Linked DNA regions of Homo sapiens. The protein of the gene in region 3 purifies or fractionates together with the protein of the main gene of each other region. This does not show direct contact. Each region holds a gene or a part of one and is shown on either strand. Other genes may lie near its edges. The genes, in order: GUSB, EDEM3 and LY9.

Region 1 (3,652 bases), on a different chromosome or scaffold from region 3:
GGCTGAGGCAGGAGAATTGCTTGAGCCCAGGAGGTGGAGGTTGCAGTGAGCCAAGATCATGTCATTGCACTCCAGCCTGGGCTACAGAGTGAGATTCTGTCTCTCAAAAAAACAAAAACAAAAACAGTCTGTACTGTGGAGGCCTCGGGCAGGTGCCAGGAGCTCTGAGCACAGACGGGTCCCTCTGTTGGGTTTTTCTTCCCTTCTAAGGGCCATTTCTTCTTATTTATTTATTTATTTTTTGAGATGGAGTTTTGCACTTGTTGCCCAGGCTGGAGTGCAATGGCACAATCTCGGCTCACCACAACCTCTGCCTCCTGGGTTCAAGTGATTCTCCCGCCTCAGCCTCCCGAGTAGCTGGGATTACAGGCATGCGCCACCACGCCCAGCTAATTTGTATTTTTAGTAGATATGGGGTTTCTCCGTGTTGGTCAGGCTGGTCTCGAACTCCCAACCTCAGGTTATCTGCCTGCCTCAGCCTCCCAAATAGCTGGGGCCACAGGTGTGTGCGGCCATGTCAGGCTAAGTTTAAATTTTTTTTTTTTTTTCCGCAAGATGGAGTCTTGCTTGTTGCCCAGGCTGGAGAGCACTGGTGCAATTTTGGCTCACTACAACCTCTACCTCCTGGGTTCAGGCAATTCTTCTGCCTCAGCCTCATGAGTAGCTGGGATTCCAGGCGCATGCCACCATGCCCAGCTAGGTTTTTTTTGTATTTTTTTGTAGAGATAGACTTTTACCATGTTGACCAGGCTGGTCTCAAACTCTTGACCTCATGATCCACCCGCCTCGGCCTCCCAAAGTGTTGGGATTACAGGCGTGAGCCACCATGCCCGCCCCTAATTTTTAAATTTGTTGTAGAAACAAGGTCTTGCTATGTTGCCCAGGCTGGTCTTGAACTCCTGGTCTCTGGTAAAACTCCCAAAGTGCTGGGATTCTAGGCGTGAGCCGCCTTGCCCGGCACTTGCACCATTTCTCTGCATGCGTCTCCACTCCCACTGCCCAGGACCTGTGGACTTAGATTTGAGTCACTGCTGAGCACCTCGCACCTAGCCCCATGCCTGCCTCCCAGCCTGCACTCCGTTTGCTTGATGCATTAATAAATATCCCTCCCAAATCTGCATCCATCCACCTCCTGTGTTCAAGAGCTGTTTCAGGGCGTCAACCTCATTTTTGCCAGTGTCCAGCCTAGTGACCTCAGCTCTGTGTACCTGGAAGAGTGGCTGCTCCTCTGGGGGTATAGGATTCGGAGATGGGGGTAGAAGGAGTGATGTTAGAGAGCTCGGTCTAGGACTAGAGGATCATATGCCCTTATGTAAAATACATCTCAAGTTAGGGAAGAAAGCAGCGGCTCCATGCTTTTTTTTTTTTCCCCTTTGTTTTTGTTTGTTTGTTTTGAGACAGGGTCTTGCTCTGTGGACCAGGCTGGAGTGCAGTGGCATGATCTTGGCCCACTGCAGACTCCTCCTTCTGGGTTCACGCCATTCTTCTGCCTCAGCCTCCTGAGTAGCTCAGACTATAGGCGCCGGCCACCACGCCCGGCTAATTTTTTGTATTTTTAGTAGAGACGGGGTTTCACCGTGTTAGGATGGTATCGATCTCCTGACCTTGTGATCTGCCCGCCTCGGCCTCCCAAAGTGCTGGGATTACAGGCGTGAGCCACTGCGCCTGGCCGCTAATTTTTGTATTTGTAGTAGATAGAGTTGGGGTTTCACCATGTTGGCCAGGCTGATCTTGAACTCCTGACCTCAAGTGATCCACCCACCTCGGCCTCCCAAAGTGCTGGGATTACAGGTGTGAACCATCGTGCCTGGCCCCGTGTTGTGTTCTGGCGGTGGAAGATGGGACAGAGAGGATGGGAGGGTGTCTGAGCCATTCCTGGACTGATGGAACCTGTTTCTTCTGCCTTTTGTGGACAGGATGGTGATCGCTCACACCAAATCCTTGGACCCCTCCCGGCCTGTGACCTTTGTGAGCAACTCTAACTATGCAGCAGACAAGGGGGTGAGCCTGGGGGTCCCCACCCCACTTCTCCCTGCCTTTGCCTGGGCTTGTCCTGAAGCCTGGTCATGGGAACAGCCAGGAAGAACCATGCGCTGCCAGTCTGGGTTTTATTTCATTTTCTTTTTTACTTAAAAAGATAGAGACAGGGTCTTGCCATGTTGCCCAGGCTGGTCTCCAACTCCTGGGCTCAAGCAATCCTCCTGCCTTGGCCTCCCAAAGGGCTGGGGTTACAGGTGTGGGCCACCACACCCCGGCCGCAGCCAGTCTGTTTTCACAGATGGTCTTTGGGTTAATGAGAATTCTCCCCCTGCTTACTCGCCAGGCAGTGTGGCTTTCTCAATCCAAGGAGGCTGGGCATAGGGAGATGGGATTTGTTTGCTCAGTTTGGACTCAGCATTTTTTGCACTTCGATTTAATAGACTCATAAAACATCAAAGATTTAAGGGAGCTTAGAGTTCATCTGGCCCACACCTGGCTGATGAGAATCTCTAGGGGAAGTTTTTATGAAATGCCAGATCTCTGCATTCTGAGGTCCTGATTTAGTACGTCCAGGGTTGGAACTTGAGTTTTTCTTTTTCTTTTGTAGAGGCAAGGTCTTACTCTCTTGCCCTGGCTGGAGTGCAGTGGTGCAATCACAGCTCACTGCAGCCTTGAATTCCTGAGCCCAAGTGATCCTCCTGCCTCAGCCTCCCGAGTAGCTGGGACTCCAGGTTTTCACCACTGCGCCTAGCTAATTTTATATCTTTTTGTAGAGGTGGCATCTCTCTATGTTGCCCAGGCTGGTCTCAAAGTCTTGAGCTCAAGTGATCTCCTGCCTTGGCCTCCCAAAGTGCTGTGATTACAGGCATGAGTTGCAGTGCCTGGCTGACATTAGCATTCTTTATTTATTTATTTATTTATTTTGAGATGGAATCTTGCTCTGTTGCCCAGGCTTGAGTGAAATGGTGCAATCTCAGCTCGCTGCAACCTCGTCCTCCCAGGTTCAAGCAATTCTGCCTCGGCCTCCTGAGTAGCTGGGATTACAGGTGCATGCCACCACACCCAGCTAATTTTTGTATTTTTTAGTAGAGATGGGGTTTTGCCATGTTAGCCAGGCTGGTCTCAAACTGCTGATCTCAGGTGATCTGCCCACTTTGGCCTCCCAACGTGCTGGGATTACAGGCGTGAGCCACCACACCCGGCCAGCATTTTTACTAGAAAGAAATGTGTTCAGGACGCATTAGAAACTAGCCAGTTGGACACAGAAGCCCCTGCTGCTCAGCTGTAAGCACCGCTATGCTGAAGCTTGGGGTGGTCCTACTCGGTCGTCACCGCCCTGCTCCTTGGAGTGACTTTTCTGGCCCTCTGCAGTCCACAGTGCTGCCTTGTGAAAGCTCCCTCAAGATCCTCTGTGACAGCCGGGCATGGTGGCTTACACCTATCATCCCAGCACTTTGGGAGGCCGAGGCAGGCAGATTACTTGAGATCAGGAGTTCAAGACCAGCCCAGCCAACTGGTGAAACTTCATTTCTACCAAAAATACAAAAAATTAGCTGGGCGTGGTGGCGCACGCCTGTAATCCTAGCTACTCGGGAGACTGAGGCATGAGAAGCACCTGATGGTGGGAGGCAGAGGTTGCAGTGAGCTGAGATCGCACCACTAACATTCTAGC
Region 2 (3,652 bases), about 24 Mb from region 3:
CAGGTGTGGTGGCGCATGCCCTTAATCCCAGCTACTCGGGAGGCTGAGGCAGGAAGAATCGCTTGAACCTGGAGGCGAAGGTTGCAGCGAGCAGAGATCGTGCCATTGCACTCCAGCCCGGGCAACAAGAGCAAAACTCTGTCTCAAAAAAAGAGAAAAAGCCGACTTACAGAAATTACTGAAGAGTGGTGTAATTTTTGAACTGGGTCTGATTTCCAATACATTTTAATCCAGTTTTTGAATAGATAAAACATTATGGAAATTTTTTTTTCTGTTCAGTATAGTAATTATTATACCATTCTGTATTTAAATGTGACTTTGTTAGGCTTCTATGTGTAAGAGCAATGATATTAAATAGCTCCACTTTGAAATATGTGTTCTAAAATTTGCTCATCATATGCTGCATAAATGTAAGGATTGGAAAATAGTGTATTCTCCTTGTATGCAATCATGATTTACTTACAGTCTTGAAAATTGAATGCTTGTAAAGTTGAGTTAGCAAGTTAAAGCTTATGTCATTTGTAATATACATGTCTAGGCACTACCATTGCCAATTATAGGAATTTCTACTTCTTGGTAATAATCTCGTATTCCATTTCAGGGAAGGAAAAAAAAGAGGACTTCCATCTTCCATTCATTGATATGAGTTCCTGAAAGGGACATTTTAAACTTTTTTTTTTCTGCTTAGGACAGGATAAGAGTCTAGAGCTGTAAACCACAAATATAAAAATTATATATATATAAACATATATATATATGTAAACTTACAAAGAATTAGTGCTTTAGCAAAGTGGTGGTAAGGTCTTTTTTTAAATAATGAAATGTTTTTAAGTGGTTATTATTCATATGTTGTCAGGACTTAATTCGTTCACAAGTTTGAGTGTACTTGATTTTGTTGGTGTTCATAGTCAGGATCTGGAACTGAGGTCTTTTCTGTTTGCTAGCTCTATTATTACCAGTATTTCATAATCTGTGATTATAGTTTTAAAAATGACAATTGCAGTATAACAGGAGGCAAATAAAAATATAGTCAGCAATTTCTTTAACACTTTTTTCAATTCTTGCCATCAGTGATTGGAACTTTGGTAAAAGAAAAGTTAATAGGCCGGGCGTGGTAACTCACACCTGTAATCCCAGCACTTTGGGAGGCTGAGGCGGGTGGATCACATGAGGTCAGGAGTTCGAGACCAGCCTGGCCAACGTGGTAAAACCCTGTCTCTACTGAAAATGCAAAAATTAGCCAGGCATGGTGGCAGACGCCTGTAATCCCAGCTACTCGGGAGGCTGAGGCAGGAGAATCGCTTGAACCTGGGAGGTGAAGGTTGCAGTGAGCTGAGATCGTGCCACTGCACTCTAGCCTAGGTGTGACAGAGTGAGACCCTGTCTCAAAAAAAAAAGAAAAAGTTAATAAAAAATTGTTAAGCTGTGTTTTCCTTTGCTAATTATTTGGCCTTGTCTGGTCATACAATTAACTTGTACTTTTTCCTGTAGTCCTCAAGTCCCTGAACTTGAGAGTGCTTAATTGAAAGGCTGCTTCCTCAGTCGCAACCTTACAGGTTTTGATTTAGTAAAATTCTGGTGTAGTGATCAGACATCTCCATTTTAAACAGTGGTTACGGAGATTTTGTGAAACAGAATTCGCCAAAACACACAACTCTCTTTTTGAGCATTAGTTTTCTCATTTTGGAAGTGAATACTATTTATTTGATTTTTGACAGTTTTTTTAGAGTAGAGCACATCATAAAAAGTATCTTTTGAAAATATGACAAACATTAATAAATATGTACTTAAACTAGGCATTAGTGGTTTATTCAATGTAAGTGCAAAGGCAGAGGCTTCATAAAGCGTTGTTATTTCATGTCACTACACACCTGTGTACCTCTCTCTTAGTAGAACATATAGGGGAAGCAATAAATGGCAATAATAATGGTTTTTTTAAAGGGCTGTCCAGCAAAACCCCCGCTTCAAGACAGATACGTTAAATAATTGTGTTAAGAGGTCATTGTTTTTCTGCATCAGATTTCCTTCTCTGATGATGGCATCTATCATTCATCAGTTTTCTTAGGAAAAATTATAAGATGAATTGTACATAAATTACTAGTAATCATTAAAGTTTGGCTCAGCTCTGTGTGGTGAGTTCATGAAAGCTTGTCTGCTAGCTGTTGTAGTTTCTGATTCTGTTTATGTCCCTTTCTACCTAAATTTTTCTTTTGTTTTTATTGGTATATTTTTTATGAGGAAGAATTAACTTTTTGAAAGATAATAAATAGAATATACTTACCTTTTTTTTTTTTTTTTTCCATTTCTGCTCTTTTAAAATTAGGAATCAAGTACTGGAAATGTTTGATCATGCTTATGGTAACTATATGGTAAGTAGGAAGCTTATCTTTACCTACCATTTATGTGAGTTGATTATTATGTGAGCACAGTCAACTGGGAATTTTGAAACCTACAATACAATTACATTTTTTAAAAGGAAGTTTTTAAAAAACAGGGCAAAAATAGTCTTTCTGGTAGTGGTTTTTAGGGAACCAGTTTATTGAACAGATAAGAATAAATTGAAATTAGATTATGAAACTTCATTATTTAAACAGCTTCCTTGGGTGCCATCAACAATTATCATTGAGTGCTTTATATAGCTAGATATTGTGGATATATACATGAAGATGTTATCTCTGGTCTTAAGGGAGATTATTCTCTTAATTTAAAAAAATGTTTACAATATTTATACACTGAAGAAAACCATTGCTTAAAAGAGAAATTGTTACTTAGCCTCTGTCCTAATTGTATCCTCATGGACTCTGCACTGAATATATTTTGCTTTTTAGTTTGCTGATTCATATTATTTAAAAATGTTTTAGGGCTCACTTAAGATTAAATAGCAGTTTCAGTTTTACAAGATGAAAAGTTCTGGAGATCTGTTGTGCAACAACGTAGATGAAATAGCAAATTCTGGAATTCAAAAAAAATTTTGCACATAAATTGTAATTTGAAAAGAGTTTAAGCATATTATCCTGAAACTTATCCCTTATAACCTTGTTTTTACATTTTAAAATATGTCAGCAGATTTTCTTCTATGATTACAACGTATAAAATGTAGTTGGGAAAGTTTGGCAGAGGACTAGCTTTAGTTCTGCTTAAAATATTTTTCAACTGATTCTGTGAATCCATTTTTTATCATATATTAACCAAATATCTTCATACACTAACATCATTGTTATCTATGAACATCTAAATATATGTAATTTATGCATTTTTAGTTTTAAAACATGTTTTATATTTGACAGTCCTCGTTCTCTTTTATATTGTAAATTTGGAGAGAGCACATTTTGAGTTCTTAATGTTTTTAGGATATGATTTTTTTTGGATACATTTCAACATTAAAAACACAGTTTCAAATTTATTTCTCAAGACCTCAGTCATTCCCTTAATGTTTTTTTTGTTTTTTGTTTTTTGTTTTTTTTTTTGAGACGGAGTTGTGCTCTGTCGCCCAGGCTGTGGAGTATAGCGGCACTATCTCAGCTCACTGCAGCCACCACCTCCCAGGTTCAAGTGATTCTCCTGCCTCAGCCTCCTGAGTAGCTGGGATTACAGGTGTGTGCCACCATGCCTGGCTAATTTTTGTATTTTTGGTAGAGATGGGGTTTCACCA
Region 3 (3,652 bases):
TAAAGGCAGGCATCTCAGCTCCCCACACTAAAACCTGTCAGAGCAGTTCCATTTCCCACGATGCTCTTAGGTAATAGGTTGTACAGTCTCCTGAAGTTTAATTTTAATTAAGTTTTAAATTTTTTTCTACCACAGATGTACTGTTCCATCTGGCCTTTGTTTCTCTGTTCTCAGAATGGAGACAATAACTCCATCCTCATTGTAGTCCACATTCAAATGGTGAATGGCTAATGCCCAAGGAACCCTAGAGACCCTGGGGGACAGACTGCCTCTCCTAGCTCTGGTGACCATCTCTAAGGAGTCTATCTTGGCTTTTGTTTCTATGCTACCTTCCTTTTCAAACTTCAGTAGGCATATGAATCACTTATGGATCTTGTTAAAATACAGGTTTGGAATCAGTATTCTGGGGTGATGCCCAAGATTCCCTCCCTCCCTCCCTCCCTCCCTCCCTTCCTTCCTTCCTTCCTTTCTTTCTCTCTCTTTCTTTCTCTTTCTGTTTTTTTTTTTTTTTTTTGAGACAGAGTCTTGCCCTGTTGCCCAGACTGTAGTGCAGTGGCGTGATCTAGGCTGACTGCAACCTCCACCTCCCAGGTTAAATAGATTCTCATGCCTCAGCCTCCCGAGTAGCTGGGATTACAGGCGTGCACCACCATGCCCAGATAATTTTTTCTATTTTTAGTAGAGACAGGGTTTCACTTTGTTGGCCAGGCTGGTCTTGAACTCCTGGCCTCAAGTGATCTACCTGCCTCAGCCTCCCGAAGTGCTGGGATTACAGGTGTGAGCCACGGCACCTGGTCAGATTTTGCATTTCTAACAAGTTTCCTGGGTGATGCCCACACTGCTGGCCAGCAGACCACACTTTGAGCAGCAAGACTTTAGAACTTCCATTTGGACCAGATACCCCATAGCCTGTGTCATGGGTGATGTTACCTGGTGTATCCGCTGGGGCCTCAGCTTGGCTGGAACAGAAGGCTGGGACTGAACCTGAGAAACAAAGTTAGAGAAGGTTTATCAAGAGGGCTGTGAGGTGAGAGGTGTCTTTTATTCTGTGAGAGTCAAATGAGAAGGGGAGAGACTTCTGGGACATAGACAGGGAAAAGGCTTCAGGAAGGAGGATGAACCCTGATGAGAAGCCAGGCCTATGTGAAGGGGTGGCCAGAGTCTAGGGCTACTTTCTGCAGAGGTGGAGGCTCTGGAGCTTCCTGCCATCCCTCCAGAAGAGAGAGCTCCTCTGCCATAGCCACTGATCAGAGTAGTTTGCCTGCAATTCAGTAATTCTTCCAGGGACCCCATGTGTTCTACCCATTCTGCTCTTTTTGGCTACTACTTCATTTCCACTCCAATACTGGGATTCTAGAGGAGCTGCCAATCATAATAGTGTATCTTCTTGGCTATAGAAATTGGTCCAAGCAGCAGCCACATGACCTTAACTTGGGCCAATCAGAGCTATTTCTGACATTCTTTAAATTGGAGTTAGAGGGAAGCACATTTTCTTCCCTGTCTGGTGTCGGAGCTGTTAGTATGTGTGGGTCTGGAGCTGCCAGCTGTTGTGTTGTGGTACACTCCTCCCCTCGCTCCCACCCCTTCCCTCAGCGGGCTGCAGTAGGAAGAGTTAAGCTGACTCAAAATACACAGTAGAGATGAAAGGTGGAGAGCTCTGATGACTTTTGAGCCTCTGGTGACATTTCTCCATTATGCCAGCTCTATCCCTGCCTTCCCCACAGATTGATTATTTAAGTGAAAAAATAATAAATCACTCTCCCTGCTCCCACATGCCTTTTTTTTTCTGTCTAAGCCAGTTTGAACTGGGCTTCTATTATTTGTGAGTAAAGAGTCCCAACTGACACCCCTCCCCCATTGCTCTGAGAAGAAATAAGATGCTGGCAGGGAGGGGTAGCACGGGATTGTGTGAGGGCAGAGAAGCCTCCACAAGTCCCAGGGAAATGGCCTAGCACTGGCGGACAACATTGATCTCGGAAACTCACACCGTCCTTTTCGCTTCCAAATGCACCAGCTGAAGATCCCAACGCACAGAAGGCAAACCATCAGGAACAACCCAATCCAAAGCTTTGTGTTTCTCTCAGGTCCTTTGAGGAGGAAATGAGTGATGTTAATTCAAATAATGACAAGACACACTGGAGCAAACAATGCACAGAACATGATGGCCATCCTACCTGCCCCTTAAAATCCATGACGTTGTGGAAAGTCTTTCTTTTCATTCATTCTACAACCATTTTTCGAGCAAGCATTACTCTAGGCAAGAGGTTATAGCAGTACCTGAGGCAGACAGTCCCTGGGTAGAGAGGTTTACGGCTTGCCCAGTGTCACAGTGTTTCAAGTGTCTGACCTGAGGTTCGAGTGCAGATCCTACAGCGCCCTTAATCGCCACATTACACTGCCCCGCTGTAAATGATATGAGGGGAGTTCCAGATTCCTGTTAAGCTGGACTCTAGATCTGTCTGCCAGACACAATCTGACCCAACATTGTCAGATCCTGGGTAGACCGTACCTTTTTTCTGCTTCCTTCTACGGAAGAGCAGAAGATAGAGCTCAGGGTTCGAAACCAGCTTTTATGGTGTGACCTTGGATAAGTCCCTTATCTTTTCTGAGCCTCAGTTTCTTTATCCATATAAAGGGGAAAAACGAGAATATCTACTCTGTAGGATTGTTGCGAAGATTGTGCAAAAATGCCTGAAGGCCTAGAATAGTACTTAGCATTTATTAAGGGCCACTGGGGCTTCTTTTCTAGCTCCCACTCACGCAGCCTTTGTTCCTGTGTGGTCCACATCCCTTTCCATATCAGCTTCCTATTGGCTTTTCTCCACAAGCCTGTAACTCTGTGCTGTTCAATATGGTAGCCACAAGCTATGCATAAGCCCTTGAAGTGTGGCTAGTATTACTGAGACACCAAATTGCTTCTTTTATTTAGTTTTAGTTTAAATTTAAAAATGGCTACTCAATTCCTTCTTGAAAAACTGATAAATATGCTTGGAATAACTTGGGTGCATAAATCTATTTTTTCAACTGTAAATTTTACGAAGTCTGAATATAGATTAAACACTTTCAGTGAAAATTTAGCATCGGAATCGAGACGTGCTCTAAGTGTAAAATACATACTGGCTCTCAAAGACTTAGTACAAAATAAAATGTAGTGTCTAATGAATTTTTTTGTATTGAATACACGTTGAATAATGATATTTTGGATATATTCAGTTAAATAAAACATATTATTAAAATAACTTTATTTCTTCTTGCTTTTTCTAACGTGGCTATTAGAACATTAAAATCACATGCGTGACTCTCATATATCTGTGGAAGCATGCCACTCTAAAGGGCTCTCACCCACAGCCTCTTACTGCACTTCATAAAGAATCAGTCAGGATGCAAACTCTTGGAGGCCCCAAGGTCCTGTGACCTGAGTAAATAGAGATGGAGAGAAACCTGAACAGATGTTCTCAGAAAGAAACTGGTGGGAACTCCTGCTGACAGGGTTGCTGGCTGTGCATGTGAGGTTGGGGTGATTTTCACTGCTTCTCCATGAGACATTGAGGTGTGATTCCCCTTGGGACACAACAGCTTCCTTCTGCAGCGGGGTCCATGTGTACATGACAGTGTTTCCCCCGTCCTCCACGGAGCAGGTCAGGCTGATCCT

Evidence for each region.
Region 1: the proteins of LY9 (region 3) and GUSB purify together in Homo sapiens (affinity purification with mass spectrometry; one large-scale study listed by BioGRID and IntAct). This does not show direct contact.
Region 2: the proteins of LY9 (region 3) and EDEM3 purify together in Homo sapiens (affinity purification with mass spectrometry; one large-scale study listed by BioGRID and IntAct). This does not show direct contact.

Annotation. Positions count from the first base shown.
Region 1 is NC_000007.14:65,968,631-65,972,282, reverse strand, and holds part of GUSB (beta-glucuronidase isoform 1 precursor), read left to right. Parts: intron 1-1,916; coding exon 1,917-2,001; intron 2,002-3,652. UniProt on the Homo sapiens protein: Plays an important role in the degradation of dermatan and keratan sulfates.
Region 2 is NC_000001.11:184,748,264-184,751,915, reverse strand, and holds part of EDEM3 (ER degradation-enhancing alpha-mannosidase-like protein 3 isoform 2 precursor), read left to right. Parts: intron 1-2,323; coding exon 2,324-2,369; intron 2,370-3,652. UniProt on the Homo sapiens protein: Involved in endoplasmic reticulum-associated degradation (ERAD). Accelerates the glycoprotein ERAD by proteasomes, by catalyzing mannose trimming from Man8GlcNAc2 to Man7GlcNAc2 in the N-glycans.
Region 3 is NC_000001.11:160,816,653-160,820,304, reverse strand, and holds part of LY9 (T-lymphocyte surface antigen Ly-9 isoform a precursor), read right to left. Parts: coding exon 3,442-3,652; intron 2,088-3,441; coding exon 1,986-2,087; intron 985-1,985; coding exon 931-984; intron 1-930. UniProt on the Homo sapiens protein: Self-ligand receptor of the signaling lymphocytic activation molecule (SLAM) family.